3 linked regions of the Homo sapiens genome follow. The protein of the gene in region 1 interacts with the protein of each later gene in a pairwise test. Each region holds a gene or a part of one and is shown in the gene's direction. Other genes may lie near its edges.

The links.
Region 2: the proteins of NCS1 (region 1) and SPRED2 interact in binary tests that used the Homo sapiens proteins (3 or more experiments, as listed by UniProt).
Region 3: the proteins of NCS1 (region 1) and SFTPA2 interact in binary tests that used the Homo sapiens proteins (3 or more experiments, as listed by UniProt).

What each region holds. Positions count from the first base shown.
Region 1 is NC_000009.12:130,224,296-130,227,940, forward strand, and holds part of NCS1 (neuronal calcium sensor 1), read left to right. Parts: intron 1-2,093; coding exon 2,094-2,192; 3' UTR 2,193-2,209; intron 2,210-3,645. UniProt on the Homo sapiens protein: Neuronal calcium sensor, regulator of G protein-coupled receptor phosphorylation in a calcium dependent manner. Directly regulates GRK1 (RHOK), but not GRK2 to GRK5. Can substitute for calmodulin. Stimulates PI4KB kinase activity.
Region 2 is NC_000002.12:65,310,468-65,314,112, reverse strand, and holds the end of SPRED2 (sprouty-related, EVH1 domain-containing protein 2), read left to right. Parts: coding exon 1-612; 3' UTR 613-3,262; downstream 3,263-3,645. UniProt on the Homo sapiens protein: Negatively regulates Ras signaling pathways and downstream activation of MAP kinases. Recruits and translocates NF1 to the cell membrane, thereby enabling NF1-dependent hydrolysis of active GTP-bound Ras to inactive GDP-bound Ras.
Region 3 is NC_000010.11:79,557,496-79,561,855, reverse strand, and holds the start of SFTPA2 (pulmonary surfactant-associated protein A2 isoform 1 precursor), read left to right. Parts: upstream 1-1,448; 5' UTR 1,449-1,492; exon of another isoform or gene 1,493-1,585; intron 1,586-1,857; 5' UTR 1,858-1,887; exon of another isoform or gene 1,888-1,899; coding exon of another isoform or gene 1,900-1,927; intron 1,928-1,984; exon of another isoform or gene 1,985-2,166; coding exon of another isoform or gene 2,167-2,188; intron 2,189-2,346; coding exon of another isoform or gene 2,347-2,372; coding exon 2,373-2,544; intron 2,545-2,850; coding exon 2,851-2,970; intron 2,971-3,726; coding exon 3,727-3,804; intron 3,805-4,270; coding exon 4,271-4,360. UniProt on the Homo sapiens protein: In presence of calcium ions, it binds to surfactant phospholipids and contributes to lower the surface tension at the air-liquid interface in the alveoli of the mammalian lung and is essential for normal respiration.

The sequences.
Region 1 (3,645 bases):
AAAAAAAAAAAAAAAAAATCCGGGAGGCAGCAGTTGCAGTGAGTGGAGATCGCGCCATTGCACTCCAGCCTGGGCAACAGAGTGAGACGCAGTCTCAAAAAAAAAAAAAAAAATTATCCAGGCATGATGGCACATGCCTGTAATCCCAGCTACTCGGGAGGCTGAGGGAGGAGAATTGCTTGAACCTGGGAGGCAGAGGTTGCAGTGAGCCGAGATCACACCACTGCACTCCAGCCTGGGCAATAAGAGTGAGACTGTCTCAAAAGAAAAAAAATAAAATAAAAGGAACCATAGACACTGGAGCCTACTTGAGGGTGGAGGGTGAGAGGAGGGTGAGGATCGAAACCCACCTATTATCAGGTACTATGCTTATCACCTGAGTGACAAAATAGTCTGTACAGCAAACCCCCACAACACAGGATTTACCTATATAACAAACCTGCACATGTATCCTTGAGCCTAAAATAAAAGCCTAAAAAAAGGGACTCCAAAGAAATAAGGAATCCTTCTTTAAATCAAACTTACTTAAAACTAAAATAACTTAAATGTAAATTTGAAATAATGACGTTAGGGAAATCCAGGTGTTACGTGCCTTCAGCAAAATAACATAAAATGGTCAGGTGCGGTGGCTCACACCTGTCATCCCAGCACTTTGGGAGGCCAAGGCGAGTGGATCACTTGAGCTCAGGAGTTTGAGACCAGCCTGGGCAACGTGATGAAACCCCGACTCTACAAAAAATACAAAAATTAGCCGGGTGTGGTGGTGTGCACCTGTGGTCCCAGCTACTCGGGAGGCTGAAGTGGGAGGATGGCTGGAGCCTGAGAAACCAAGTCTGCTGTGAGCCGTGATGGTGCCATTGCACTCCAGCCTGGGTGACAGAGTGAGACCCTGTCTCAATCAATCAATCGATCAGTCAATCATAGAAATTCCTGTAACGCAGGGCTGCTTATTAGATTCTGGCTGGAGACAGCTGTTTGCCCTAAAAGCTTTGACCTGAGGCCTGTACTTTCTTAATTAAAAAAGGGAGATTAGCCCATGTTAGAGGAGTGGTAGAGACGTGCTGGCCTCAGACCCAGCTGGCGTCTTGGTAATGATCAAAAGATTTATCGACAGAGTGTGGAGCACGGAATAATAAGTTTCTCGTGGTGTGCGTCCACGTGGCTTAAGGCCAAGGCCGCACATTCCTTACTGTCCCCCTGTCTGCACTTCCGTCATTTTGGGAAACAGCACAGACCCTGTAGTCACACTGACTGGGGTGTGAATCTGACTTCTCCGTTTCCCAGCCCTGGGGCCTGGGTAGGTGACGGAGCCTCAGCTTCCTCACTGGTAAAATGGGGATGAGAGCAGCACCCCCTTCTTGGCTTGGCCGTGAGGGTTCCATACACTGAGGGTTGCGCCGAGCTTGGCATATGTCGTGTACGCAGCGAGCGATCCCTGAGCACAGCTCGGTTGTGCTCATCGGCGCTGTTTTCGGCACTTACCCTCTCTGGATACCCGAGATCGAGTAGGTGCTCTCCGTGGCCTTTTCCTTGTGGTCCGCCGGCTTCCTTGAGAGATGCTCCGGGGAAGGGATTCTGGCCCAAACATCCCCTCCCCGAGAGACCCACTAAAATTCCTCTTTCTGAGCCATGTCCAGCCCCCTGCCGGGTCTCCCAGGGTCCAGTGTGGGCTGCTCCAGGAGCAGTTTAAATGCCCTTCCAAGAGTGACCCCAGAGAACTGCACGAGGCTCTCAGCCTTGTCAGTTACTCACATTGATGGGGTTTAATAGCATTAACCATGACACGTGTGGAGTTACAGGGCACTTCCAGTTGGTCAAGCACAGAGCTGTCACCCGAGTGCCTGGAGGAAGCCAGGTAATTACCCTCCATCCCCAGGTGAAGAAACATGCCCAGAGAGGTGGGCCACGGCCCAAGGCCACCCTGCCATGAGTGCCGAGGTCTGTCTGGTGCTGGCTGCTTGTAGGCCCTGAGCCACGTTGCCTCCCTCCTGATCTAACCTTGGAAGGGCTCTTGGGACCGGCCCTGGGCTGGGCTTGTCTAGAGCCCTCTCCTGGGAGGCCCTGCACCCTCAGCCGCCTCTCTCTGCTCACAGAATGCCGACGGGAAGCTGACCCTGCAGGAGTTCCAGGAGGGTTCCAAGGCAGACCCGTCCATTGTGCAGGCGCTGTCCCTCTACGACGGGCTGGTATAGTCCCAGGCTGGAGCTGGGTGAGTGCAGACTCGGGGCCTGGGGTGGGTCTGGGATGGGTCAGGGGTGAAAACCCAGCAGCAGGACACCTACGGTTGGCAGGTAATTACCTGGGTCTCTGGGGGTGTTGTGGTCAGCCTAGCAGGGACATAGCTGGGAGGAGGAGGCTGGAAGGGGGGCCTTCAAATTGGTCAGAGCTCCTCTGTTTTGATCATTTTTATAGACCCAGATCAGCCTGCGAGTTTGCTTGAACAGAATTTTTCTGGGCGCGGTGGCTCACGCCTGTAATCCCAGCACTTTGGGAAGCTGAAGCAGGCGGATCACCAGGTCAGGAGTTCAAGACCAGCCTGACCAACATGGTGAAACCCCGTCTCTACTAAAAATACAAAAATCAGGCGGGCGTGGTGGTGCGCACCTAGTCTCAGCTACTTGGGAGGCTGAGGCAGGAGAACCGCTTGAACCCAGGAGGTGGAGATTGCAGTGAGCCGAGATCGTGCCACTGCACTCCAGCCTGGGTAACAGAGTGAGACTCCATCTCAAAAAAAAAAAAAAAAAGAAAAGAAAAAAAAAAAAAGAAAAGAATTGTCCTGGGTGGAAGACACTTTGAAAATTAGTTCCCAACCAGGGCCAGGGACCTGGGAGAGCAATTTCTTATCCCCTCTCTGAGCAGCCGGTTGAAGACCTAACTAAGCTCCTAGCTGTCACAGAATGATAGCACGCCTGGCAGAGGCCCCTGTTGCTGGTAGAGAGCTGTCTCCCTTCTTTCCTTCTCCTCTCCTCCCTTCTCCCCTTTTTTCCTGCCTCTTCTTTGTGGAGTGTTCAATGTAGTCTGCGGGGAGTGGGTGTGAATAACGTCCAAGGTATTGTCCAGAGATCAGCGTTCTTGTCCACGTCCTGGTGAACCAGTGGATGCCTGCTGTTGGTGTATATGTAAGGGTAGAATTGCTGGGACATAGGATATGTGTAATATTTAGCTTTGGTAGTTACTAGAAAACAGTTTCCAAAGTGGTTGTGCTGTTTTGCGGTCCCACTAGTAGTGTATGAGAGTTCCAGTTGCTCCACATCCTTGCCAACACTGGGTATTTTCTGTCTTTTCAAATTTTAGCCATTTTTGTGAGTATGGAGTAATAACTTGTTCTAAGTTTACTTTGCATTTCTCTGATAAGCAGTGACGTTGAATGCCTTGTTATAAGTGTATCACCCATTTTAATGTGCTCATTTGTGATGTGCTAGGTTAGTTATCCATTGCTACATATTACATTACCACAAACAGCAGCTTAAGAACAAACATTAGGAATTTGGCACAGTTAAGCTGGGTGCCTCTGGCTCAAGGACTCTCAGGAGTATGCAGTTCAGCTGTCAATAGGGTTTGCCCAGGTCTATCCTGGATTTAGCAGTGCAAGTTCCCTGTTCTAGGAAACTTCTCAGTCCCGGGAAAATTGGGATACTTGTCAGC
Region 2 (3,645 bases), on another chromosome or scaffold:
CGCATCAACCCCCGGGAGAAGATCTGGATGACGGGGTACGAGGATTACCGGCACGCACCCGTCAGGGGCAAGTACCCGGACCCCTCGGAGGACGCGGACTCCTCCTACGTGCGCTTCGCCAAGGGCGAGGTCCCCAAGCATGACTACAACTACCCCTACGTGGACTCCTCAGACTTTGGCCTAGGCGAGGACCCCAAAGGCCGCGGGGGCAGCGTGATCAAGACGCAGCCCTCCCGGGGCAAGTCGCGGCGGCGGAAGGAGGACGGAGAGCGCTCGCGGTGCGTGTACTGCAGGGACATGTTCAACCACGAGGAGAACCGCCGGGGCCACTGCCAGGACGCGCCCGACTCCGTGAGAACTTGCATCCGCCGGGTGAGCTGCATGTGGTGCGCGGACAGCATGCTCTATCACTGTATGTCGGACCCCGAGGGAGACTATACAGACCCTTGCTCGTGCGATACTAGCGACGAGAAGTTTTGCCTCCGGTGGATGGCTCTTATTGCCTTGTCTTTCCTGGCCCCCTGTATGTGCTGTTACCTGCCCCTTCGGGCCTGCTACCACTGCGGAGTGATGTGCAGGTGCTGTGGCGGGAAGCACAAAGCGGCCGCGTGACTCAGTTTCCCTCCCTTCTCCCTCCATCCGCAGCCACAGGGGAACTCGTCTCTTACATACTCTCATCTTCTCCCCCGCTCCCTTCCACTCCAAGGAGCGAGGAGGGCAAGCGGCCTCCCAGCTCCCTGGTACCTCGAGGCACCATTCCAGCCAGGGACGCTGCCGGGTAGACTCTCCACTCCCCCTGCCGCCCACACTGCAGCAGCCACATCCATACACACACGCTCGCACAGTGTTCTGAGGAAGGAACCTTCGCCACAGACTCCTGTACTATTAACAATCTGTAACCAAGCTAACTGTCTCATCCATGTGTTGATTTCCTGTTTCCTCCTCCCCCGCCTCTTCCAGTTCAAAGGAGTCTGCAATTGGAACTGCTGATTTTCGGTGGGTTTTGTAGTTGATTTTTCCAAGAGCGTCGAAGACTCTCTTTCTCTTGGTTCACCTTGCCTGTCGCTAGCAAGCATCTGGTTCAGCGGAAATGGGATGTGAGAATGATGAAACCCGACAGAAGTATCTCAGCCTGCAGTCAGTTATTATGTATAGGAGGTGAGCTAGTTAACAAACTTGTACCACAAAACAATATCGCTTTAACTTTTCTAAAGCCAAATTTCCCATGTAAGCTGCAGTTTCTATCTTTAGCCCATCATCATTTTCTGCCCCCCCAAAATCTGTTGAAATGATTCACTGATGCAAAACATTCACCCGTAATAGACTGAGAATTGAGCCTTAACTTCAGATTAACTTGTGAGAATCAGGAAAATTCCTTCAACTGCATTGCATCCTCTTGGACCAGGGCTAGAATGGGGATTTCAGGTTTCTATGAGCCTCCCCATTACCCCTAAAGTAGAACATTTTTTAAATTGTGTTGCCACCACTTCTAAAAATTTAGCAATATTAGAATAGGATACTAGTGAAGTAAGAAATTTTGCTTGTTGTTTTGCAAACCAAATAGTTTCCTCAAACACAAATCAGTGTTCCCACGAACAAGTTCCAGTTGAGAAACACTAAGGTTATGGTGAATAAAACCATAGGGAGCTTCTTCCCCCCAACCCCTGGCTATTTTATATTAATGGGGAGAGGGGATTTTTAAATGTCATAAATTTGAAGAGTGGTGGGTTGCATTTTCTTCATGGGTTTATGTTTTCGTTTCATTTTGGACTCAATTTCACATCACCAAATTCCTCATTTATACTTGGGGAAAAAACAAGGCCATATGTAAAAACCCTTCCAATGCCTAAGTGTCTTTCTCCTGCAACTCCAAACCCAGACTCGCCACTTTGGGTGCACAGGTGGTTAGGTCAGCCAACTGGTTCTGCCTGTCGCCTTGCCACGGAGGAGGCTTCTAATTAGCTGGAAAAGAGTATTTTTCTAATACGTTGCAAGGATTAGCCAAATCTTCTTATTGAAGAAAGAAGAAAAGTGAAGAGTGGTTACCTATACCTAGCATAGTACAATCAGAACCTCGTGGAGACCACCGGGGACAGGCTTGCGGACGCCGGCTGTTCTTCCCGCCACGATCTTTCTGTGGTAGCGGCCAGCAGAAGACATGGCCTGCTCCCCACTCCCTTTCCCCACTCCTTCTTTATTGCACACAGGACACCAGTCTTCAAGGAAAGGGACTTTTTTCCAGTCTGCCAATCATATTGGGAAAGTGCTAGCTGTGCTCACCTTCATGGGGCTGTTTCCAGCTCGTCCACAAGCTCATCGATTTTCTTTAGTAGATTACCGGTGTAAATACCCAGTGTGCTTATGAGTCAGTTAGTAGACGTCTTCATTCATTGGAGTAACTGGTTTAGGCTTTCCAGTTTGGAAAAGGAGCAGAGAGCTGTCCATCTGGATTGATGGAAGAAAAGAGAACCTCATCCATGCCTGGAGAACATCTAGAAAACCTTCAGCCAGCCTCCAGTGCTGTCGAGAGACCACCTTCCCCCGACCCGGAGGCACTTCCTTGGGGTCTTTCTCTAGGGTCTCTTCTCTACAAAGCACAACACTAATGTTCGTTTCCTTAGACCTCAGTTCAAGTGCCCCTATTTATTTCAATAAGAACGCACATATCCCAGCTGTTTTTTGTTTGTCACCTCTATTTAGTTGTTACCTGTTTCTCTCTTCTTTCACCCCTTGTCCTTTTCCACCCTTTTAAGAGTTACGCTAGCAGATCTTACTCCACGTATACTTTTTGGTTTGTGAAGGCATCGGTTAAGGGCACAAAGACAGCCATGGGGACATTTATGTAAATACGTCTCTAATTGCCACACTGCAGCTGAACAGTGTGTAGTATTTTCCCAGTCAGCTTTGCCATACTGACGTCAATCATTTGAGAGAAATTATTCAGATTTTATTTTTGTATCTGTGGTAACAAAACATTAACCAAAAGATTTTCTGTCCAGAAGCCTCCCCGACCCCCCAAGCTATTTGCTCACATTAACAAATTAAAGTGCCTGAAGCATAATTCATTCTTTACCTGTATACTAAAAACCCTGTTGTATTGATTTTTTTATAATAAGCCTTTTTACCTCTGTGTAAAAAATATATATACAAGTGTATGATGTACATTTTAGTTCTTAACTTTTTTTTATGGTTTCTAATATGTATGACCAATGTAGCCATTGCTTTAAAATGTACCGTGTAAATATAAACACATCCTATCAGATCGCTGGCTTTGGGGTATTTGTCTGGCAGGAGACGAGGTGATGCTAGAGCGTTGGCAGATCTTGGAGTTCCCGCATACAGGATGGGACAGGGCTTCCTGTGCCGAAGGACATGTGGACACCGGTCTGTTTTTTCAAGGCCCTTTCCTCCTATGGTTATGTCATATTCCCAAGGGGAGACTGCAGCTCCTTGGGCTCGGATGCCTCAGTGAAAGGAAGGCTGCAGGCCACCGCCCAGGAACACCCCCTCTTCCTAGGCCTGGCTTCCCCAACGAGCGCTCCTCAGAGGGAACAGCTGTACTTCCTCTAAGTTGTTTTCCACTGATCCCTGCTGAACCTCAGGGATATGTGTGTGTGTGTGTGTGTGTGTGTGTGTGTGTGTGTG
Region 3 (4,360 bases), on another chromosome or scaffold:
GAAGCGTGACAACCGAATAAGGCACATGGCTCAGAAACGGATCCTTTGCTATAAAGGACACTATTGGGGCATTGTGTACATTTTGCATAGGGCCTGAAGGCTATTTGGAGTTATTGTATCCGTGTTTATTTCTTGATTACGGTTATAATGCAAAAATGCCTTTGCGTGAAAAACACATTAAAGTATTGGGGTGTTGGGGTTTCATGTTGACAACCTACTCTCATAGGTTCAGGGGAAAAAAAAGTCGTACGATACTGGCAATTTTTCTGTAATTTTGATGTTGTTTCAGAATAATAAAATGAAAAATGAAACTGACCAAGGCCACCTGGTTAATAAGTGACAGCTCTGGGTCAAAACTCAGGTGTGCCTTTCCCCTAAAGCCATGCCCTGCCCTGCCAACCACAAGGCCCTGCACATCCAAGTTGGCCTCTGTTCCTGCTCATCACCTGCAAAACAGCCCTGCCTCCCCACAGCCAAGTTGCTGGAGCTTCGCCCCACCTGCCCCCAACCTGCACTGGCCTGACTCCCCCATTCCACACCTGGCCCAGCACCCACCACATGGTGTGGCAGACAGCACTGGGGCAGCTGAAAGACTCCATGCTACAAATTGGCACTGCCCAGCTTCCTGCTCCTGGGAGTGGGGTCCGTTGTCTGAGCTTCCGCTCCCTGGAAGAGCTCCAAACTCCTCAATGGTTTGGGATTTTTCAAACCAATTCCAAATAAGCCAGGGGAGATTTTCCTGTCTGGGTTCCCATCATTACCACCTCCACAGTTGGAGATTCCCTCCTAATCCAGATGCTCAAACCAGGACCCTAACAACTAGGGCTTCATATATCACTGGGACACTTAGCATAATCACCATTGCAGGTTGCCAGACATCACCCAAAGTGATGTTCTACCAAAGACAGAAACTGCAGCTCTCCCATGACCTTCCAGGTGCTGCCCTGACTCCTCCAGCTGAACCTGCTAGGGCAGAGGGAAGTGGAACGTGCAGCATATTTGCCTGCCACTCTGTCCATGTGCCCACCAACTCGGCTGCAGGCTCCAGAGACACTGGCTGGGGGTCCTGGGGCTCAGAGCTGAGCAAGGTTACAGGGCAGACAGGTTGGCCTGGATCAACCTGACCAACCTCAGCTGAAGCAGTGACTTCTTCATTGTCTGAAACTAAACCAGGAACCCAGTGGAGCTCCCTGAGTGCAGAGTGGGTGACCTTAGCCAGTGAGGCATTTCTCTTCTTACAGACCTGGTATTTTTCTTTACCAGGTTCTGTGCTCCCCTCAAGGGTCCTAAGTATTCCTGCAGCCTGAGTGTTCTGCAGGGAAATGTGCTGTGTAAACACTATGCCTATTTCCTGCTTGGAGAACAGGTTTTGTGGTAGAGCTCTCAGGGGTGGGGAAGAAGCCTGGCAGCCCACATGCTATAAATTCTGTTGTCCACCTTTATGCTCTAACTTGGAGGCAGAGACCCAAGCAGCTGGAGGCTCTGTGTGTGGGTGAGTTTAGCCACATCCCCTAGGTGTTCTCCAGCTTGAGGATCGCAGGCAGAGAGGACCAGCCCAGCAGCCACAGGCCTGACCAAGGCCCAGGTTGGGAAGGAGGGCAACTCCCCATTTTCCACTGGGAGGTGTTTCACAGCATGGTCAACATGGATGACCTACAAAGACCCTCATGCTTTGATATCTTCCTTGGCCAGATCCATCCCTACCAGGGACTCAGCAGGGCCTAAGCAGGGGGAGTGGGAGAACAGACCCCAAGAGGAAGGAAGACCTCATCACTGACTGTGAGAGGGTCATCACCCCCCGATGATCACCTTGAAGGGTCCAGGCTGTGGGCCCTATTCATCTCTTTTCATTCTCAGGTCGCTGATTTCTTGGAGCCTGAAAAGAAGGTAACTGGGCATATGAGGGACAGATGGAGTGAGTCAGTGAGTGAGTGACCTCATCCTTCCTTCTAACAGCCTGGGAGGGACAGGGCAGGTTTTCTGCAGAGCATGGAAGATTCAGCTGAAATCAGAGAGGTGAAGCCAGTTTCCCAGGGTAACATAGTGAGGCACTGAAAGAAAGGAGACTGCACTGGAGCCCAGGTCCCTGGGCTCCCCAGAGCTCCTTACTCTTCCTCCTCCTCAGCAGTCTTGAGACCCCACAACCTCCAGCCGGAGGCCTGAAGCATGAGGCCATGCCAGGTGCCAGGTGATGCTTGGAATTTTCCCGGGTGCTTCGGGTCTTCCCAGCACTCTGGTCTCGCCCGCCCTGCCTCTCGGGCTCTGCCCAGCTTCCTGAGTCCTGACAGAGCACAGTGGGGGAGATGTTGGCAGAGGTGGCAGATGGGCTCACGGCCATCCCTCCGGCAGGAGCAGCGACTGGACCCAGAGCCATGTGGCTGTGCCCTCTGGCCCTCACCCTCATCTTGATGGCAGCCTCTGGTGCTGCGTGCGAAGTGAAGGACGTTTGTGTTGGAAGCCCTGGTATCCCCGGCACTCCTGGATCCCACGGCCTGCCAGGCAGGGACGGGAGAGATGGTGTCAAAGGAGACCCTGGCCCTCCAGGTACTGTGCTGCAGACCCCACCCTCAGCTGAGGGACACAGACCCCTTTTCAGGAGGCCCATCTGTCCAGGCCCCTAGGCTGTGGGCCATAGTGAGCTGGGGGCTATAGTAAGCTGGGTGGGACTTCAGTCTGCAGGGGTGGTGGGTTCCTGGGGCCCTTATGATGGCGCATCCTGGAGAGTCTGTCCTCATAGTGCCCACGGAGTGATAGCTGAGCCAGCCCCGGTGATAATGGGCATCGAGTCTCACTAGCTCCAACCAGTTGTGGGTGACAGATCCTACACATCCATGTCTCTTTTCTCTGCAGGCCCCATGGGTCCGCCTGGAGAAACACCATGTCCTCCTGGGAATAATGGGCTGCCTGGAGCCCCTGGTGTCCCTGGAGAGCGTGGAGAGAAGGGGGAGGCTGGCGAGAGAGGCCCTCCAGGTGAGCAGGGCGGGGCAGGTGGGCAGTGGAAACATGGGCACAGCGACCTGAAGTCAGTTACACAGGGGTGATGGGGGTCAGACAAACCCTGCAGGTTCCCCAAGGGCATTTGGCTCAACCTAAGTAAGAGAATATGAATTTGAGGGAGAAAGCCGAGGTGTCTGGGGAGTGTGGTCACAATTCAGAGAAGGGCAGGTGTGGGAAGTCCTCCGTGCCTCATGACCGCTGATGGGGACACACTGAGTCAGGTGTGGGACGAGGGACAGCACTGGGAGGCAGGGGAGGCATGTCCTGGGATGGAGGCCCTGGGGGCAGTCTGAAGGGTGAATGCGGACGAGGCATCCAGGCAGATGGTGTGATCAGGAGCCCCACAGACAGAGGGGAACTTTGAAGCTCAGAGCGGTAAGCAAGTCCATCAGGGCAGTGCAGAGAGCATCATGCTTGCCCTTGGTGGAGGGTGCGGGAGAGGGACTTGCCCCACAGAGGCGGGCAGACAGAACCCCTCGAGGGACAGAGCAGGAAAGAGGACAAGGGGTGGGGGTCTCAGCAGGGGCAAGGCTTCACTAAAGAATAGGGGACCACGGGGTGTGGAGACACACTGGAATCTCGTGGACCCTCTGAGCCTAGGGTCTGGGTGGTGCCTAACAGCAATGAAAGGGCAGAGTTCCAGGATTGCAGATGGCAAAACGCCTGCGTGGCAGCAAGTGGGAGTCTTCACTGGCCTGCCCCTCCTTCTGTGTGGGGCACTCTCCACAGGGCTTCCAGCTCATCTAGATGAGGAGCTCCAAGCCACACTCCACGACTTCAGACATCAAATCCTGCAGACAAGGGGAGGTAAGGGGACCCCCTGGGCCTCACGGGGTAGGAGTTTCCCACAAATTCCCCTCATTCTCAGCACCACCTTCTAGAATAGAGATGACAAACAAGCGTGCACATGCAGGTGTTGGGGAAAGGAATGATGCTTGCTTTTCTGATGTCTTTGAATGGCCAAGAGGAGACAAGCAGACACAATTCACTCCCCATTTCATAAGAAAGCAAGTTCTCTGCCTGTCTTGCTTTCCACTGAATCCTAGGAAATTGCACCATTTCTGGCAATAAGTAATTGTTACTTAGATGAATGAATAAATGGAGGAGAGTCTAAAAGTGAATTTAGAAAACTGCAATTGGAAGAGGAAGAGAAGACACAGAGAGAGGCAGAGATGGAGAGACTGGGGAGAATCTGGTAGCAGAGACCCTAGGTGAGGGAGGTGGCTTAGAGACAAAGTGGTCAGTGGCCTGACCTGGACTCCTCTGCTCTCAGCCCTCAGTCTGCAGGGCTCCATAATGACAGTAGGAGAGAAGGTCTTCTCCAGCAATGGGCAGTCCATCACTTTTGATGCCATTCAGGAGG